Linked DNA regions of Homo sapiens: region 2 is linked to region 1. A link means that fine-mapping ties the variant in region 1 to the expression of a gene that starts in the linked region. Tissue or cell type: whole blood. Region 1 holds a variant in brackets; the other region holds the start of a gene. All regions are shown on one strand. Distances are from middle to middle.

The links. PIP is the estimated chance that this variant, and not a neighbour inherited with it, causes the effect.
Region 2: it holds the start of PRXL2A, and the variant in region 1 is fine-mapped to the expression of PRXL2A in whole blood (TOPMed, PIP above 0.99).

Annotation. Positions count from the first base shown.
Region 1 is chr10:80,436,238-80,446,579 of GRCh38, forward strand. PRXL2A (peroxiredoxin like 2A) reads left to right here. Exons shown (of 6, transcript NM_032333.5): 6 at 1-878. Among named protein-coding and RNA genes, the nearest start is that of TSPAN14, 13 kb to the right of the region's middle. The variant G/A (reference allele first, on the strand shown) is at 5,914.
Region 2 is chr10:80,403,054-80,413,395 of GRCh38, forward strand. PRXL2A (peroxiredoxin like 2A) reads left to right here and starts at 5,498. Exons shown (of 6, transcript NM_032333.5): 1 at 5,498-5,590. RefSeq lists silencers at 621-793, 5,277-5,566 and enhancers at 5,852-6,445, 7,292-7,791.

The DNA.
Region 1 (10,342 bases):
CCTAGTAGCTGGGACTACAGGCGTGGACTACCACACCCAACAAATTTTTAAATTTTTTGTAGAGGCAAGCTCTTATACTATCTTGCACAGGCTGGTCTCGAACTCCTGGGCTCAAGCAGTCATCCTGCCTCAGCCTTCCAAAGCTCAGGGATTACAGACATGAGCCACAGCACCAGGCCAACAATATTTCTTAAAGCTCCTGGAGTGATTCCAATATGCAGCCAAGGTTGAAAACCACCCTTTAAAAGGCTCGGCATCCAGTGTGGAAGACCAGCACACTCACGTCAGGAGACCTTACCTGGAGCCAGGATGCCCCTGATCATCTCTGATAACTTTAAAAGGAAGGCCTCAGAAGCAGCCCCAGAAGCAAAAGTTTCTCTCTGACCTTCTCCTGCCCTCTTGTTTCTGGCTTTTCATTCTCCCCCAAGGCTACCCATAGAAACTAGAATCCCTCTTCCCCAAGGCAGGTCATCAGAAACCAGAACCGGTTTTACCCAAAGCCAGCCATAAAACCTAAAAATAGTCCTCTCACTCCCCATTCCCCTTTCTGTGTAAAAACTGGTTGGAAAGAAATGATCTGACCTACCGTGTTTGACTGTCGTAAGATACCCATTCCAGAGAGGGTCCCACCCCGTGCCCAGAAGGAAGGAATCCTGCACAGAGAGGCCAAGAAGAATCTAGACAGCCTTGCTGGGTTTCCCCTCTCAGTCTATTACTATTAGATCATACCCTTCTTGTCCAATCATATTTCTACACAGTCCATAATCTGTTGAACCTAAACATAAAAATGGACAATTCCCCTGTATCTTGGGGTCTTCATTCTGAGGGCTCACATACAATTATGATCAAATAAATTTGTTTGCTTTTTCTCCTGTTAATTTGCCTCTTGTCAGTGATTTTTTCAGCAAGTCTGCAGCGGGTGAAGGGCGAGTTTTTCCTTGGCCCTAGCAGTGGCAAGGGTCACAGATGGTGTGGACAGGGGTGCATGGGGAACCCCCAGCTGGAGGAACTTCCAAGGCAGAGATTTGGATAGCGAAGCATGGCTAGGGGAAAACGGAGGAGTCTAGTCTGTTTTGTTTACCTGGTTCTATGTCCTCTCTCCCAGTATGCAGATTTCTCAAAAGCAATGCCTGTGTCTGCTTCCTCTCTTTCCCAGAGCAAAGCATACCATTGCAGTGTAGGGGAGTGGAGGGCAGGGAAGGTGAGCTGTGGGGAAGAGGCTGTAGGGGCTGTGAGGATAGAGGGTGGATGCAGTCAGGGCAGACTGCAGTTTCTTCCCAGCACTAGCTGCCCTCCCTCCATTCTGGGTTGCCAGTGCCCCATGGGGCAAGCAAGAAGGTGTGTATTTGTCAGTTTATGTTTGGGAGGGGAAGGGAAAGAAAGTTGATTTGTTCTCATTTAACCCTTCAAATCCTTTCTACATTTAAAGGAGGATTTGTCATTTTGTTTTGAAGACAGTAACAATTGAGGATGATAGTGGGTTAGATCCCTGGATTAGGGAGGTGTGGGGAGGTCCTTTCAAGGACATGCTTCTTCCAGCTGTACCTGGTCACCTTTCTGTATTATATAATGATGGTCAAGGTCAACCCACACACTAGTTATTGCAGTAGGGGATAGGAGGCAATTCTAAATTTTACTGGGAGCGATGGGAATTCGTTTAGAGGGTTTTTAGAAGAGTGACATGATCTGATTTCTATTATTCTGGCTGCTTTGAGAGAATAGATTTTAGAGGATCAAAGGTGGCAGCAGGGAGCCCATTTGGGAGGCTGGTGCAATGATCCAGGCAAGAGAGAATGGTGGTGGCAACCAGGTGGGAGCACAGAAGATAGTGAGAAGCGTCATGATGGATATATTTGAAGGCAGAGCTAAGAGGATTCTTTAACTGTTGGATGTAGGATGTGACAGAAAGAGGAGCTAAGAGGATTCTTGAACTATTTGGATATAGGATGTAAGAAAAAGAGCAGTCAGGGTTACCTTCATGATTTTTCTCCTGGACAACTAACTGCTCATGAATTTTTGATCATTTTACAGCAGAAAATGATGGGGTAGTAGAAGGTTTTACTGTGCTATAATAGTTACAATGAATGAATGAGAGGTATAAGTATCAACTTGGATGCACCGAAACAAGGAAGGAAAAAAGCTTCAGAATGTACATTCAGTAGGATACAGTTTACATAAATGTGTAAGGCTTGCAAACAGTATTGTGTAAGCTCCATATATAGATGGTAAAAGTGTAAAGACAAATACAGAATAATTACAGTCAGGGTTGAGCCCCATCTGCGAGCCTCACACTAAACAAAACAAAACGAAAAGAAAAAACATGCCATTGCTCAGTCCAGATCCTAGTCCAGTTAAACCAGAATCTCTGGGGCTGGATCGATCCAGGCATCAGTATGTTTTAGAGCTCCCTAGGGGATTCTAGTATGTAGGCAAGGTGGAAGACCACTGCCTTACCTTGACAAACAATTGTGAAATCTTTTAAGAAGCAGAGGAATTTTCCCCTTTCGTGCCAAGTAGTCGTCCATGTCTGTTCTGAAGTTAGTTAAGAGACACCCATGCCCTAATTTCCATGGTGTTCAGCCAGGAAACATGAATAAAGTCTCTCAAGAGACAGCTGAGCCCAGAACATGGTCTTCCAATATCAGTTTCTGCTAAAGGGAACTCCTTGGGGAAATGGCTGATTGCAGGGTTGGGGCAGAAAATGTACAAGATGAGCCTGTAACATCTTGTTGTACCAGATACCAAGCAAGCTCTCAATCACCACTAAGGGCTTGTATAAAGGACAGACTCAGGAGACAACTCTCACTTGCCAAAGATGGGACTCTTTGAGCATCAATAAGAATAATGGCAATGAATTAAAACACATCAGATGTTCAAATCAATGAGTTCATAATGATCCTTTAAAAAAAGAAAATCTCTGGATGATGCTAAGAAAGCAACTCATTTGAAACCTGGTAAAGAAAGACAAGCATTTATCCTGCCTTTGTTACTTGAAAGTTACCGAAGACTTGATGATGGAAGTTTCTCATTGCAGAAGCACTCGTTAAGGCCCAGGTCCAGCCATAATTAGAGTGAGAGTTGCCAAGGGGTGGCCAGTGGGAGATACCTGAGTCCCCGAAAATGCCTCTCTCAGTCTGTCCACAGGGCAGCTCCTTGCAGAGCTTTGTTCCAGCAGAAGATGCCTCTAATTGCACTCTTCATCCAACAAGATGTGCTGGTCCCACTTGCTACACTAAATGCTCTCCCAGCACAGTCTGAGTCAGTCAAAATTCTTGATCTTGGGGCCGGGCACGGTGGCTCATGCCTGTAATCCCATCACTTTGGGAGGCTGAGGCAGGTGGATCACTTGAGGCCAAGAGTCTGAGACCAGCCTGGCCAACATGATGAAACCTTGTCTCTACTAAAAATACAAAAATTAGCCGGGCATGGTGGTGCGCACCTGTAGTCCCAGCTACTCAGGAGGCTGAGGTAGGAGAATCGCTTGAATCCAGGAGGTGGAGGTTGCAGTGAGCCGAGATCATGCTACTGCACTCCAGCCTGGCCAACAGAGCGAGACTCTGTCTCACAACAAAAACAAACACACAAAAGAAACAAACGTTGGAAAGGATGTGGAGAAAAGGGAACCCTTACACACTGTTGGCAGGAATGTAAATTAGTACAGCCATTATGGAAGACAGTATAGAGTTCCTTAATATAGAGTTCTTATATGATCCAGCAATCCCACTACTGGGTATTTACCCAAAGGAAATGAAACCAGTATGTTGAAGAGATACCTGCATGCTCACGTTCTTTGCAGCACATTATTCACAATAGCCAAGATAAGTATACATCAATGGATGAATGGATAAAGAAAATGTGGCATATGTACACAAAGGAGTACTTTTCAGCTTTTAAAAAGAAGGAAATCTAACACTGGGTGTGTTAGTGCACATGTAGTTCCAGCTACCCAGGAGGCTGAGATGGGAGGATTGCTGGAGCCCAAGAGTTTGAGACCAGCTTGGGCAACATAGCCACACCCCATCTTTAAAAAATAATAAAATAAGGAAATTCTGTCATTTGTGACAACATGGGTGAACCTGGAGGCCATACGTTAAGTGAGATCATGCAGTATCTGTCTTTCTGTGCCTGGCTTCACTTATTTGTGGAATTTTTTTTTTTTTTTTTTCAAAAATTGAACCCATAGGCCAGGCGCGGTGGCCCATGCCTGTAATCCCAGCACTTTGGGAGGCTGAGGCGGGTGGATCACCTGAGGTCAAGAGTTCGAGACCAGCCTGGCCAACATGGTGAAACCCATCTCTTTTGTATTTTTGTACTAAAAATAGAAAAATTAGCCAGGCTTGGTGGCGGGCACCTGTAATCCCAGCTGCTTGGGAGGCTGAGGTGGGAGAATTGCTTGAACCTGGGAGGTGGAAGTTGCAGTGAGCCAAGACCACACCATTACACTCCAGCCTGGGCGACAGAGTGAGGCTCCATCTCAAAAAAAAAAAAAAAAAAAAAAAAAGGAACCCATAAAAGCAGAGAGTAGAATGCTAGTGGATGGTGAAATTCTGCACATTAGATGGGCTGGGGGTGCCATTGGATATCACCCCTGGAAATGAGATGCACCACTGGGCTAGCAGCCTAAAGCTATACACCAGGCTGACTAGGGAGCCTGCCAGGAGGTGTAACTGACTCTGGGTTCATGTTCTTTATGAGCTCTTTGGTACCTACCTAGGAGTCAGTGCTCATAAAAGAATGATAAGAAATCTGTCCCTGACCATGGCAGATGTTGCCTCCTTCACAGCCACTGTTTTGGCAGCCCTGCAGACATCCTTCATTTCTCTTGGGAAGATTGTTTTACATACCAATATTGCTCTAGACTTTCTTTTAGCCCAAGTGGGAGGAGTGTGTGCAATTGTTAACACCTCCTGCTGTACCTGGATAAGCACATCAGATTTCATAGAAACACAAGTAGGCTGGGCGCGGTGGCTCACACCTGTAATCCTAGCACTTTGGGAGGCCAAGGTGGACGGATCACCTTTGGTCAGGAGTTAGAGACCAACCTGGCCAACATGGTGAAACCCCATCTCTACTAAAAATACAAAAATTAGCCAGGCATGGTGGTAGGTGCCTGTAATCCCAGTTACTCAGGAGGCTGAGGTGGGAGAATTGCTTGAACCGCGGGCGGTGGAGGTTGCAGTGAGCAGTGAGCCAAGATTGTGCCATTGCACTCCAGCCTGGGCGACAAGAGCAAAACTCCATCTCAAAAACAAAAAAAAAAAAAAAGGAAAGAAAAGACACACAAGTAGAAGAAATTCAGGAGCAGACCCTCACAAGCAGAAAAAATTCAGGAGCAGGCCCACTGGCTGCAGACAGTGGGGCCACCTGAAGGATCCTTCTTAGACTTCCATAGCGACTTCTTAACTGGATCGCTGTGTCCAAGGCTAGGTCATGCTCCAGGCAGCCCTGGTTATTCTGCAGTTGTAGGGGTCCTCCTGGGCCTCGTGAAATGGATTCTGGCTATGGCTTAATGATGTCTCACTGGGATTGTGTCAGTTAAAGTGTTCTCGAACTAATGAGACAGACCAAACCCCTGCCTCCAAATCCAGGGAGGTTGGTGGGATATGAAATTGACCAGCTTCGCTAAGGGGGATATCTGGGTTTCGGATGGACTACAGAGCAGTTCTCCAGATGGCCTTGGACTGACCCAGTTCTCCCAGCTTTCTCACTGTAGTTCTCAAGAATAACTGTAGAATGTGCTGGGAATGCAATAGCCTGAGGTCAGGAGGAACTGGCCAGAACAGCCTGGGCTTGTTCCTGTCCCTGCTATGAAAGAATGCCCTTCAGGCCCGGAGAGGCGGCTCACGCCTATAATCCCAGCACTTTGGGAGGCCAAGGGGCAGATCACCCGAGGTCAAGAGTTCAAGACCAGTT[G/A]GCCAACATGGTGAAACCCTATCTCTACTAAAAATACAAAAATTAGCCAAGCGTGGTGGCGCACACCTGTAATCCCAGCTACTTGGGAGGCTGAGGCAGGAGAATCACTTTAACCCGGGAGGCGGAGGCTGCAGTGAACTAAGATTGTGCCACTGTGCTCCAGCCTGGGTGACAGAGCAAGACTCCTCAAAAAACAAAAGAAAACAAAACAAAAGATGATGACGAAGAAGAAAGAATGGATTTGGGGAAAAAAACAAAAACCAGCAGTGTCTGCCATAATATATTTATGAGAAAATACATGAAAACTTGTAACAGTATTTGCTCTAGGAACAGGATACTGGTGATTGGGGACATAAAGGAGAATGTCCCTTTTAATACCCTTTTGAACTTTTATAATCTGTTCCATATGAGTATATTAACTAATCACACACTTTTAACAGAGTAATAAAAATGCACCATACTGCGTGCTTGGTAAACCTCTCTAGCTAGTTCACTGACAAGAAGTTTTGTGCCCTCACCCTTAGCCCCTCAGAGAGGGCTATTTGTGTTGTGAAACTCAGGCCACATAGAACTGTAAGAAATCCATTTGATTCAAGGAGCATAGGAAATCTCATGGGCCTGTATGGGCAGGAGCCTGGAAAGGGACACAAATCCAGCTAAGTGTCCTGGGGGGTGCCAATCTTCCTGAGCCAGTGGACCCAGCTGTTATTGGCCCTCCCTTGTGCCCTTCATGACTGTGCTAGGCTTCCTCAGGGGGAGAGAAGGCCAGTTCTGCTGCTAAGCTCTCACCCCAGCACTGCTTATACACAGAGGCAGGAGGAGGCCAGATGCCTCTGGCCAGGAGGGGCTAGGGTGTGGAGCCTGGGGGCCAAAGCACAGCCAGCTCCTGGGAAAGCGGGTGCTGCTTGAAGCAGGAAGTCTTTAAAGTCTCTGCCATGCAGAGCTCTGGGCTGCCCTTATCGGACTCTCATCTTTCCCCAGCCTTCATGACTCAAGAGAGCCAAATTTATGAACCTCGTCATTCTTCAGTTGATGATAATTTTTAGAAAGTAGATTTTCCTTGAGCATTTAAACATTAAATGTAATCAGTTACACTCTTCCCAACTGTAATGACTCAGTCTCATAAATGTTTAAAACGCCTTTAAAAATTGACAAATAATAATATAATCATTACAAAACTGGATCTGTATATGCATACTAAAACCAGTTACAAATGCTAATATGTGGTTCTAAATTTGCTTCTTTATTATTTGCAGTTAGCAGCCTTAGCAGCAGGTGGCAAGACATTATGTGCCCAGATGTTGCTGTCCCATCCTGGGGACCTCAGAGTTGGCCATGCCACACCTTCCATTGGAGGCACCCAGACTCTCCACGGTCTGCACCACAAACCCCGGTCCTGGGCACATCGACTGGACCGGGGTGGACCCTGGACCCTAACTCAGGCCTCTGTGAACTAGCCAGGGACCTGTAAAACCTGTACAAAGTTTTTCCCCAGAAGGGGCGCAGATGGTGACAGCTGACCGGCAGAAGGCAGGGAGGAGCCCTGAGGGGAAGCTGGCCAGAAGTTGCTGGCACTGTGGAGATAAATGAGATACCAATGTCTCAGTGAGAATAGAGAGTGGGTGACGTGGAGGCAGTACTAGATCCTGACCTCTGCTGGCCAGTTCTCCTAAGGGCCTGGCTGCAAGGTTGTGCTGGGTGGCTTTCTACTTCCTGTGCTCAGACAGGCAAAGGAAAATAACTCAAAAGCTGTTCTAAGCCAAAGTGATGGCATGTGCCAAGTGCACAGGAAATAGAAGCTGGTCCAGAAATGTGTATGCAAGAAGTGAGGGGAGCAGGACTGAGTGGAGGGCGACATGGAGCTGTGAGGCCTCAACTGATCCCACAGGAGCTCTGAGTTGAGATCACCCAGCAGATGCCCCGAAATGAGACAAGGGGCTTTGTAACTCCCACCCATCACTCGTTTAGTGGACATAGGCTGCACCCTGCACCAGGGATGGGGGTGGGGCAGAGCCCTGGTGGGGGGCAGCTTCCTTCTGCCAGGGGCAATTCCAAGTGAGTGATCTAATCTAACACAGTGGGTCCTGAAGTGTGGTCTAGGTGGTCACAAACCAGAGGTGACAGGCTAGGTCACTGTGTGTGAGGCAGGCCTGTGGTCAGAATATGGTTGGAGCAGCCCACTCAGAGGCCAGGCCTGGTTAATCCCTGTAGAACAATGGAAGGAGCTGTGTTCATGAAATGAACCTCTAAGGGTTTGCAGGAGGAGGACTGATGGGATCAGATTTTCTTTCTAGTGTGAGGGAGGGGGAACCGGAGCTCAGGAGAGGGATCTGGCCACAAAGATGGGTGGGGGCGGTGCACAGAGGATTCTAAAGACACAGAGTGGCACAGAGGGCAGAGAGCCTGTGGAGATGAGAGGGGGAAGAAAATGGTGTTAGATGTTCCCAGCATCTGGGAAAAGTAGCATTTGTAGGAAATGGGGAGCAGGATCTGCAAAGAGACTGAGGAGGAGCTGCGTGCAGGACACGTGGTCCCGAGTGGGTAGAGGAAGAGAGCCAAGGGCTCCAGGAAAGAGAGAATCAGCAGTGCCAGACAAGGACTGAAAAGCCCTCCCTTCCTCCCCCAACACACAGAAAGACAGACTGACACACACGCACACACACACACACACCCGTGGTTTAATAAACTTGGAGTTTCCTCAGACTGCCTCTAGGTGGCAGTGTATGCACGCGGCATCAACTGCTGCGCAGCTCTCCCCGGGGACTACCAGATTCTCCATGGAACCAACTAAAACTCCCCAAAGCTGTGTGACAGGGACAGGGAGAGGTACCTGTGATGTTTGCAACATCCATCTGTTTTCTGCTCTGTCTCAGATGAGTCTAGGTGTGCCTCTCTCCCCTACTTTGTAGTGGTAGGGGGAACTTTCAGTGGCTCTCCTAGCAGTGTCTGCGCCTAGAGGTCCCAGGGCCTTAGCCGACCCTCAAATCTCTAGGTGTGAGATTGAGACAGACTGGGGACTCAGGTGTGGTCATAAAGCTGACAGTCCTGCTTCTACCACTTATCAGCTAGGTGATTCCCTCTGAGCCCCCTTTCCACATTTATGTTACTAAGTCAGAGCTTTGTGAAGGTCAGTTTGCATGACATTATTCCAGAAGTAACACTCTGTGCTGTCAAGTGGCTTTGACATCTGCACAGATCCCATAGTTCCCTGGGTAGACATGAGCAGCTCTCCGGCCTGAGTGGACCTAGCTTTCAGGGGCAGAGTTGGGACTTAGCCCGTGCAGTCCGATTCCTGGTATTATACTTGCTCTTAACATCTAGGATCTGCTCCCTCCCTTGATGTCTTATTTGGCCACATCTGGGGTTTTCTTCTTTGGCAAAACTTTCTTCTCCCATGTGGAGTCATTACAGTGTGGTTGATGCACAGGGCTGAAAGGGCCGTGGGATGTCACCTGTTGAACAACCTTTCTTTCTCTGCCACCTTCAGTTTATGAAATGGAACAACTGAGGGCAGAGAGATGACAGGACTCCTTGTCACCACCATCTGCTTAGACAGTCTCAGATGCTATAATTAAAGGGTGTTCCACTGTGTCTTATCCTCACACATGGGCTCCTATCACAAATCTTAGTCCTAATTCTTTGCAGGGGACGCCACTGGCAGGCAGAGGTCCCATGGCTGAGGCTGTAGATGCAAATAAGAGTAGAAACCTCCTAGAAGTTTGCAGATTCCTTAAAATAGATTGTTCTGGAACAAATAGGCCAAGTATAGAATGACAGGCCAAGAAATAAATTTCCTTTCTGTTCTCTTTTCCCCAAGGCTCCCTAACCTCTTTCTTCAAGAAAGGCAACACCAGTGCAAAACTGACCTTGAAGTAAAAGTTCTACCAAAGATGTTGGCGCCTAACCCATTGCCATTGCCTGCACTCCAAGTCCTGCCATATACTGATGGAGTGACCCATCTTCCCACTAGCCTCTTGGTCCTGACCTCCTCACCCTCAGGGCCATTTGTTTCTCCGTTTCTTCCATCTCAATCACCTGGTCCCATGGATACACACCTCTGTCTGACCACAGCCTTGTGTCACCGTATCTCCCTTCTTCACATGCTGAGGGCCCTCCAGCCGCAGCCTCATCTTCTTTCCCCCTATCTACTAGCCCCTCCAGCTGTCACTTCTCTCCCCTAGTAGCCAAGCCTCAGGATACAACACCTCAACTGCTTTATTTCCAACCTTCTGGAATCCTTTGCACCATTGTTTTTCTATCATGCTCTCCCGGCAAACCCCAGATTTTGATCAATCCTGCTGTCTGTGCTCTCTGCACTTGCACATACTCCAGCTGCTGAGTACTGATGAAAAAGGTCATGTAATCTGAGATGTGTGTCACTCTCACTCTGGGTCTCCATTTGCAGCTGGGCTTGCAACCCTTCCCCAAA
Region 2 (10,342 bases), 33 kb before region 1:
GAGATAAAGGGCTAGTTCCTTATTTAATTGAAATCAACATTTTTCCAGGTAAGAAATTTGCTTTCAGTGTTCGATAAAGAATTTTTATTATATTTAAGTGATTTGCTTTTATTTCTATTTTACTTAGGGCTATGACTAGGAAATTCTACAATTTTAACTGGATTTCTTTTCAGCATCTATTAATATGATAAGCAGTTTTGTTCCTGTTTTCTGTTCATATGGACTAATAGATCTACTAATGTTGACACCCGCTTACAATCCTGGACTAAACTCTACTTGATTATAGAATAGCAAAGCTTGTAATTTCTAAGTTGCTCATTTTTTCACATTTTAACATGTCTGAAATTGGGTCACGCATTACAATTAGTGGTGTCCTATGACTGCTATTGTAGTAACAGATGTGACAGTTGTCATTGCCTGCACACCCGTCAATGTAGTCATAGCTGCTTAGATTGTTGACCCTTCAGTTGAGTTATGGACATTGCTTGTACTCCATGAGTTGACTTTAAATGCTCTATAAAATCTTCTAGGGCCAGGTGCAGTGGCTGACGCCTGTAATCCCAACACATTGGGAGGCTAACAGTGGAGGATCGCCTGAGTCCAGAAGTTTCAGACCAGCCTGGGCAACATGGTGAGACTCCATCTCTATTTTTTTGTTTTTTATTTTATTATTATATACATATTTTTGAGACAGAGTCTTGCTCTGTCGCCTAGGCGGGAGTGCAGCGGCGCGATCTCGGCTCACTGCAAGCTCCGCCTCCTAGGTTCACGCCGTTCTCCCGCCTCAGCCTCCCGAATAGCTGGAACTACAGGCGCCGGCCACCAAGCCCGGCTCATTTTTTTGTATTTTTAGTAGAGACGGGGTTTCACCGTGTTAGCCAGGATGGTCTCGATCTCCTGACTTCATGATCCGCCCGCCTCGGCCTCCCAAAGTGCTGGGATTACAGGCGTGAGCCACGCGCCCGGCCTTTTTTTAAAATTTATTTTTATTTATTTTTATTTTTTTGAGACGGAGTCTCGCTCTGTCGCCCAGGCTGGAGCGCAGTGGCGCAATCTTGGCTCACTGCAAGCTCCGCCTCCCGGGTTCACGCCATTCTCCTGCCTCAGCCTCCCGAGTAGCTGGGACTACAGCTGCCCGCCACCACGCCCGGCTAATTTTTTTGTATTTTCAGTAGAGATGGCGTTTCACCGTATTAGCCAGGATGGTCTGGATCTCCTGACCTCGTGATCCCACCGCTTTGGCCTCCCAAAGTGCTGGGATTACAGGGGTGAGCCACCACGCCCGGCCTCTATTTTTTTAAACAGTAAAATCTTCTAAAATATTACTCCAAGATTTGACACTGAAATGAAAAAGTTTTTGCAAATGCAGAAATTCATAAAATCAGAGCAGTGGAACATAAATTTGATATTAGTAAAGCAACTTTTGTTATCAGAAGAATTACTTCATTTTCCTATATTCTTGCAGAGCAACAATTGAGACACTTATGGAACCTAAGAAAGCTATACATACACACACAAATGAAGTCTATTATGTTTTGCTATTGAGAAACACACAAAAGAATTGTAAGGCACTGGAAAAGTTGCCAAATCTCTTGAAATGGATAAAAGGAATTCCAAAGCAATGAAAGGTTGGTGTCATCAATTCATTTGTTTTGAAGGACTATCATTAAGATGTCAAACATCTTTTTGTCAAAAACTTCTGCTGATGTTGAGCAGAAGGCTATATGGAGCACCCTTTAAGAAATGCTGTGTTACCAATGTTTCTAATGGTCAGAGGATAATATTGTGTGACAAATCCAGAAATCAGCAACTCTAAGTCTAAAAATAGTAAAAAAACAAAAAAACAAAAAAAAAACAAAAAACGAAAGAGTTGGGCTTTGAATGTGAAGATATCTAAGGAATGCCTTATCCTGTTCATTTCACTTATATTTTTTCTTTTTAAGTGTGCACACAGGGATAGATGAGTTGGGAATGAACCTAGACTTAGAGTGCAGTAGTACCCTGGCCACAATGACTGGCCAATCAGTATGAGGATCTGGGTTTTGTTCACTCCTTAGTCTAACTGCCCCTTCCCCATGTTGGATCCTAGGAATCATCCTATGACCATAGGGAGAACCATCCTTAATATGAAGCCAACACATGGATAATGGCAGAGAAGCAAGAGAACCTCGACTGTTGATGACATCATGAAACCACAGGATCACCTCAAGGCAACTGGAATTGGGTTTTCTGTTAACTTGCAAATCAAAGCTTCCTAACTGAATAAAGACTCAGTTAATGTTAGTTGGTAGTGCATGCAATGATGGTTGAGGACACTTGAGACAATCCTGCTTTCTCAACCTGGGGGCAGAATAATACCACCATCTAGCCCTCAGTCAGCCATCGGTTCACCTGGTAAACCATTGGCCACATTTATGGAAGGTTTTAGAAAGAGGTCCCTATTGACTTTGCTTTGCTTTGAGACACACTGTGGAAGTATAGGATTTTTTATGCTTAAAACAAATAAGAAAGAGCTGAATTCAGGGATATTGGCATATAGAGAAAATATTTGAAGCTGATCTATGCACATCTATTTTTGAGATTCACATACAAGTCTTGTTCTTGATTTCGCTTTTACCCATCCACAGAATGGTAACCTGGGCCTGACATATTGAAGTGAAGTATCAGTTTTTGCTCTATTTTCATCTTGATGCTAGCTGCTTCCTGACTGTTCCCAGCGAGCCCAGACACCACAGGGCCATAAGCTTAAAAAGATCATGTTACTTCAGTCACTGCTGAGTAGCAGACGAAGCTGAAGCCAGCTGAATCTAGAAGTGCTATGACGCTGAAAAAGTCAGGAGTCTTTACCCAGATCTGCCTCCTGCAAGCAGTGTTTTCTGCCTGCCCTATGGGACTTGTGAGGGACAGAAAAGTTTCCCAGCCCCTGTCAAGATGGTAACATTATCTAAAGTTATCACAAAGCTTCTAGTCAACCTTAATTTCTACCACCTGAAATTCAGAACCTAAGGCTATTTTACAATCTTTACAAAATTTAAATTATTTTTCTCTTAAAAGCTGGGCAGGTTGGTGGGTTTTCTTGGTTTATTCTTCAGGTTTTTTGTTTTGGTTTGGTTTTTGGTTTTAGTCCTTGAGCTTTGTAAATAAGTTTTCCTGCGCCTGCTTGCCTGTAACTTATTTTTCTGGTCTAATGACTGTTTTTTAATGAGTTCAGCCTGTGCTTTCTTGTACAAAAAGAAACGTGGGCATGTGAGGAGCATATTAATTAGCTATCAGATGTAGCCTGGTTTTTGAAGTCCAGATCTTCAGGATGTTACCGAAGTGTAAATATAAGCATGACTTTTGCACGTGATTAGTAATTACATCACAGTTAAAGCCTCAGGGGACCTTCCACCCCAGAATTCTGCTATCCTCAACCCCTGAATGGCTCTGTCATTAATGGTCAGTCTCCAAGAACTCATTTCCCAAGGAAATGACTTCCTGTTTTGTTCTAAGTGGCCTTCCCTGCAAACCCTCCTCACCTTTGAACTTCCTATTTTGGGATGGAAAGATTGACCCTTCTCCCGCTCCTCTTCACAAGGTAAGGAGAAACAAGGGAGAAGAAAGAAAGGTCCTCTGGAGAGAGATATATGTATCATACATATCTTATACATATATCATATATATCTTATATATCTCATATATATCTTATATATATCTTATATATCATATATATATATATATATATATATATATATATAAAACTACACCCGCATTGCACCAAAGTATACGAAATATTTTCTGGCCTTCAAATCATATGCCTAACTCCTGCAGGAAAACTGCATGGGCACTCAGGCTGATCTCCCTTACCCCACAACTTAGATCCACCTCTCACGTTTTCTAAGTTTATTTCCACGCTGTCCCTGGGCCAGGCTCTAGGGTCCCAGAGGTGAAGTGGAGGAATTCACAGTTTGGTTGAGGAGAGACCCCCTTGAATAGATCAAGCTCCCCAAGTGTTGCTGTAAGTTTACATGGAACATGGAGTCTGAGTGGGAAGTCAGGGAGGTGAATCACGGAAGCCTTTGGACTTTGTACACCTGTGGGCAGCTCCCAGATGAAGGGGGGAAGGTGTTGCAGGCAAATGACCACCTTTGACGGGCGGACATCGGCCTGCTTTGCCACTTCACCTTATGCTGCCCTGTGACTGGTCTTTGCACTGTGTCACCGATATGTCTTTTTTTTTTTTTTTTGAGACGGAATCTCACTCTGTCACCCAGGCTGGAGTGTAGTGGCACCATCTCGGCTCACTGCAACCTCCACCTCCGGGGTTCAAGCTATTCTCCTGCCTCAGCCTCTTGAGTAGCTGGGACTACGGGTGCGCGCCACCACACCCGGCTAATTTTTGTATTTTTAGTAGAGACGAGGTTTTGCCATGTTGGTCAGGCTGGTCTCGAACTCCTGCCCTCAAGTGATCTGCCCGCCTTGGCTTCCCAAAGTGTTGGGATTACAGGCATGAGACACCGAGCCCGGCCAACCACTAATATGTATCGTGAGTCAGCTCTGCTGTCTCTGAAAGTCCAACCTCCTACTTTTTGTTTTTTGTTGTTAAGACAGGGTCTTTTTTTTGTTTTTTAAAGACAGGCTGGAGTGCAGTGGCGCGATCTGGGCTCACTGCAACCTCCGCCTCCCGGGTTCAAGCGATCCTCCCACCTCAGCTCCAGAGTAGCTGGAAATACAGGCACGCGCCACTATGCCTGGCTAGTTTTTGTTTTTTACGTAGAGATGGAGTCTTACTATGGTGCCCAGACTGGTCTTGAACTCCTGGGCTCAAGCGATCCTCCCAAAGCCCTGAGATTACAGGCGTGAGCCAGCGCGCCGGACACAACCTCCTACTTTCATGAAAGAGTGGGCACTTCCAACAGGAGGAGTAAGTGGATGAGCGGTGTGTGACACACCCGCCTCAGCGTCGCCCGGAGTCCGCAAGGCTGCGGCTCACCGTTCTCTGCCCCATAGCTGGCATTGTGGAGTGAAAGGGAACGTGGGTGGAGGATTGAGGTTGGAAATTCTGAATCTGTACATACAGCTTGAAGGGGCTCATCGAATGTGTCGGTCCTTTAGATTCCCCCTGCCCATGGAGGTTAAAAAAAAAAAAAAAACCTATCAAAAGAGCTATTCAAAACCAGGCTGAAGATTGGAAGGAAGTTGGCCAGCCTCGGCTGCAGGACAGGTGCTTCCAGGCTCCATTAGGGGTGTCCAGCGCCTTCTTTTGCCCTAGGCAGCGCCCTGAAGAACGCGTCGGGGCCTCGGTTCGCGGACTTGAGGAGTGGACCGACCGAGCGCTGTGCGTAAAAGGACCGCTGGGGCACACGCCCGAGCGCCACCGGAGCTAGGAGACCGCGGCCCGGAGGTCGGCGAGTCGGGGGCAGGCCCGGAGCTCCTCCCACGGGGGGCGGGGCGGGTCACATGGCGGTGGCGCGGTAGCGCGCGATGCAGCACAGGCTAGAGGCTGCGCAAGCGCGGGGCCCGCCCCTGGGACCCTCCGGGCCGGGCGGTTTGGCCCCTTAGCGCCCGGGCGTCGGGGCGGTAAAAGGCCGGCAGAAGGGAGGCACTTGAGGTAGGTGCTGCGCGCCGGGGCTCCGCGAGGCACGTGATGTCCGTAGGCGGGGCCTGCCGCGGCGTAGGTGGGGAAACTGAGGCAGTGCAGGGCCGGTAGGGTGGGTGCTGGGCTGGTGAGGCGCGCCCCTCGGGCCCGCGCCAACTTTCTTAGGAGCCGCCGCAGCGCTGGCGCTCCCTCCGAGGACGACGACCCTTCCGCCACCCTGCGTGGCGGCCGATGGAAAAACCCTGCGCCCAGACGTCGGAGAACGGAGACGGGGACCCGGCGCTGCTGCGGCGGGCTAGGGCCCCCTCTGTCCACGCCCGCAAGCCTTGAGTGACGCCGGTGGCGCCAACCTTCGCGAATTGTTGGGACAAAGAACAGAGGAGAGGGCCCTGCCCTGGAGCATGGGCCCGGGGGCCGCCCTGCTGGACCAGCCCCAGGTGCGGACCTGGCAGTCCTCGTCCTCGTCTCTGTGCCCGCTTAGGGTCGTGTCTTTTAAGAGGGCACGGTTTCTAGCGTTGTTCAGCGTTTCGGAGGCACCTGTTCCCCCTCTTTCCCAAGAGTCACAAACGCCTGACTTTAAATTGGGTAGAGCCCAGTTGTAAACTTAACAGCCCTGCTGAGGTCTAGGAATGAAAAGATGAACAATCTGCCCCCAGGGTTGTTGCTGGAGCGGGAGGTGAAGGCGCAGGTGGAGATGGTTAGAGGCAAAGGAAGGGAAGTCAAGGCCCAGCCGGTCCAGGGCTGTGGGAAGGAGGCACACCCGGGAGTCCACTGCCGGACCGGGGTTCCCAGCTGCTCCTGCGCCTCTTTTCCTTGCCACATCATGCTGTCTGCACAGCCCAGCAACCCAGAACTCAGCTTTTTTGTTTGTTTTATTTTAATGTATTTTCCTTTGAACCTGGCAGGTGGTTTTTCAAAAAGAAAATAATCAAGATTTGTTTTGAAAAGCATTGTGAAAAAGTCAGCTTGAATAGTCTTGAATGCTCCTGCTCGGGCCCAGCTTTGGAGAATGAGGATTGGGATTTCCACTGCAGACCCCGACTCGTTACCATACTCATTCATCAGAAAACTCTTCATTTTGTGTACAAATAACGTTTTGAGGGTAATCATTGCTCTAGAAATGAAGAATTATACATCGTATTTATTGCACTTTTTGTAAGGTACCTCACAAGGCACCTCCTATACATTTAATCCTTTGATTCTTGCAACTCTGTAGAAGGTAATTAAGGAAGCATTCCCATTTTACTGATGCAAAACAGTTCCTTGTCCAGGTTTATACAGCTTGCAAGAATTAAAGTTAGATATTATTCTTGGTGTGGGCCTTTCCTATATCCCCGTCTTTTATAAGAGCATGTCATTTAGTTGAGACCTTCTGCATTACTTCTGAAGGGGTACAAAAGACATTTCTGATGATTTTCTCATCTCGTGTCATTTAAATGGTGCTCAGAAAGTTTGGATAGGACTGGAACTCTAGGGCTCAAGCCCCAGGCTCTGTCCCTATCTAAGCAATAGGGCAGCTGTCCTGCCAGTTGGGTTCTTGCTTCTTTGTGAAATGTTGAGCAGAAGCTCCAAGTCTCTCTGCTGTGGCTTGTGTGGCAAGAACCATCCTGAGGTTCTGTGCAGAGAGCCAGCCTCACCTTTGAGCTCAGTGGCCTCTGGCACAGGGAAATTACAGCTGGGCAGTGTCCTTTGCCTTCTCTGGCACTGCTAGTGCAGGAGGCAGTGTTAGCTGCTACAGGAATAGCATGGAGCGGGCCTGCAGGCCAGAGGGGCTGAGACAAGCCAGTGTTCCCACCAGACCTAGAACGTTCACCAGAAAGCAGGCCTGCAGTGACACAGCTGCAGAAGTTCACTATTTTGTGCCTGTCCTGCTTCAGATATCCTGTCTTTATAGGGGCACGAGTGAATCTGAGCCCTGCAAAAGAGAGAAAGATAATGCTGCTTTGCCGTTTTCTAGTGCGTTACCGCATTAAAAATTGCTCTTCTTATATAATCTTTATGACAACTCTTTAAAGTGCCCTTGTTTTTAAGAAGACACTGAGGTTCAGAGGGATAAAATAACTCTCAGAGTCAAAGAGAGAAAACCCAGGATTATTGGCTTTTAGCCCAGTGTCTTCTGTGGTATTGCCTTGCCTTCCTATCCACACCCATATAACTTGATGAAGCCGGAGTTCTGAGCCCAGACAGGAGGCTGTGCAAGTGAGATTAGAATGGCTTGCTCTTTGAGGGGTGGGGGGCCCTACAGCTTGAGGAAACAAGAGGACATAATCAGCTACTGGGAAACCCTGAGATACGCCCAAGAGTGAGGAATGTGGGGGCTGGTGCTGCTTTCAGCATCTATTCAGAGGTTTCTGAATCTGGCATTTGAGAGTAGGACTGGGCCAGAACCAGGCAGATACACACCCCAAGGAGCAGGGCTGAGAGTTGGAGACTGAGGCAGGTAGGTGAGAGCTCATTGCAAGTGACTGATTTTGTGGTATATGAAGACAAGGGTGGGTGGAAGGGCATCTGTTGCTCATAAGGCTCTGTGTGCCTGCATCATCAGTATGCTAGACAAGGATGGACAGAGTCTTGTTATTGTGGGGAAGAGAGGTGCAGAATGGCTTCTCAGCGGAGACTAGGCAATGAGACCCTTAAGACATTTGGCTTCAGATTATAAGCTGCTTACCAAGGATTGGGCTTGGGAGAGGCTGATGATGTTCTCTCCAGGCAGCAGATTTCCCAGGCCCTGTTTACGGGCAGTCTTGCTCTTAGCTTGCCTGAGGCCAGTGAACAGGCTTCAAGACCTGCAGGGCCCCACTTCCTGAGCCCAGACTGCCATGCTATTCCAGCCTTAGAGGCCACTGGCCCTTGGCTGGCTGCCCAGGACCTAGCGTGTCTGATGCAGGATAAACAGTCATGGACTGGAAGTTGGGAGACCCAAACCTGAGTCCCAGTGCAGCCACTGACAACCTGCCCTGCCCATGTGACCTTGGACTAGCCAGCTCCTTCTCTGAGCTTTAGTTTCTTCATTTGCTCAGTAAAATGAGCTGAACCAGCGCTTTGAGGGAAGGAGAGGGAAACAGAGGAGACCAGAGAAGGAAGATGAAGCATCCTTTCAAGACTTGTTCACTGAGGGCCTGAGGCAAGGAGGCCCATGTGCACTCTTAGTTTTTTGTCTCCCTCAGCACCTTTTCTTGCTTCTCCCCTATCTCTGCCTCAGGCCAGCTCATTCTGAAGAGGGACGATTCCCTGGGTGGGGCTGGGCTGGGCAGGTGTACCCTTGATGTTTAGAATATGATGCTGTCTCTACTTGTTTCAGACATGATTTAACTCAGCCAGTGCTGATACTTTGTTTCATTAAGACTTTATCAGTTCCTGCCCAGAGGCAGCTCCTGGAACAGTCAGGAGTTAGGCCCAGCAAAGGAGGCAGGGTGAATGTGCACACCCAGCAGAAGAACAGTGGTGGCAGGGGTTCCCATGGCTTTCTAGACATCAGATCCCTGTAGTTGCAGTCACATGGTACTTTAGAGTCTTTGGATGTCAGAGCTAAGACAACCTCATAGAATTTTGAGTTCCTTCCTCTGTATAGATGATGAGATCCAGGCCCCGAGTGTCTTCATACCTTAAGTCAGATTGCCCTGCTAGTGAGCAGTAGAGCGAGGACCCAGCCTAAGGTTACCTAAGTCCCAAGCTAGAGTGTTTTCTTTAATATCAAGCCAGCCCTGTCCAAAATTGCCTTTCATACTGAACTGAAATTGGAATTGAGTAGTTATAAGTTCCAAGTCTGCCTCACTGTGGAATTCTAAGAGTAAAATTCAGATAATTTAATTAACATTTAATGCCTGATAATTACCAGGATCTGTGTTGAGTGCTGGGGATGCAGGAATGAAGACGACAACACATTGTGCCAACATATTGTGGAGACAGACATGTAAATAACTAAAATTTACACAATTCATTTGTGCATTGTGCAGGGTTATGGGTGTGTGCGCACACACATGCACGCTATAGAAGAGGTCAGTGAGCAGTCAGTTGTCAGGGCTTTCAGGAAAGGCTTTGGAGAGGAAGTGTTATGTGTGCTGGGCCTTATGAATAAGTAGGCATTTACGTGGTTGGCCTGGGTCAGAGGGGGGCATCCCGGGCAAAGGAAACAACATGAGCAACACTTGCTGAAGCCAAGCTGTGGAGGGCCCCATCAGCTGGCTTGCTGAGGAGTTTATTGTTAGTGAGAGTCTGAACACAAGGGAAAGGTGTAATCAGGTGGGGGTGTGCTGGGATCGCTCTGACTACGGCTTGGAAAATAAACTATAGAGGACCAGACTAGAACCAAGCCAGATTCATTCTGTGGTTCTTGAAATAGGCTAGGGACAGAGTTATAGGATCCTGGGTTTGGGCAGCAGCAGTGAGGTCGAGAAGAGGATGGGTAGCAGATACATTTTAGAAGATGGACAGAACTTCCTGAGTCGATGTAGGCAGTGAAGGCAAATGAACAGTAAAATGTGAACCCCTGTCCCCCACTGTCCCCCCTCCCTGCCCCCCCATCTACTGAGCCATGGAACTCCAGCAGAGAAATCGACTTTAGTTTTGGATGTGGTACAACCAAGACACCTACAAAACCCCCAAGTGGAAACTTTGGGTCAGAACAGCAATAGGAACTTGGAAGTCAATAACAAAGTGGTGGGAGAAGTGCTGGAAGTCACCCAGGAAGGGAGTGTGGGTTGAGGGAAGCCACCGATGTGGCAGAAAAGGAAGGGAAAGCAAAAGGAGGTAAAGAATAGACAG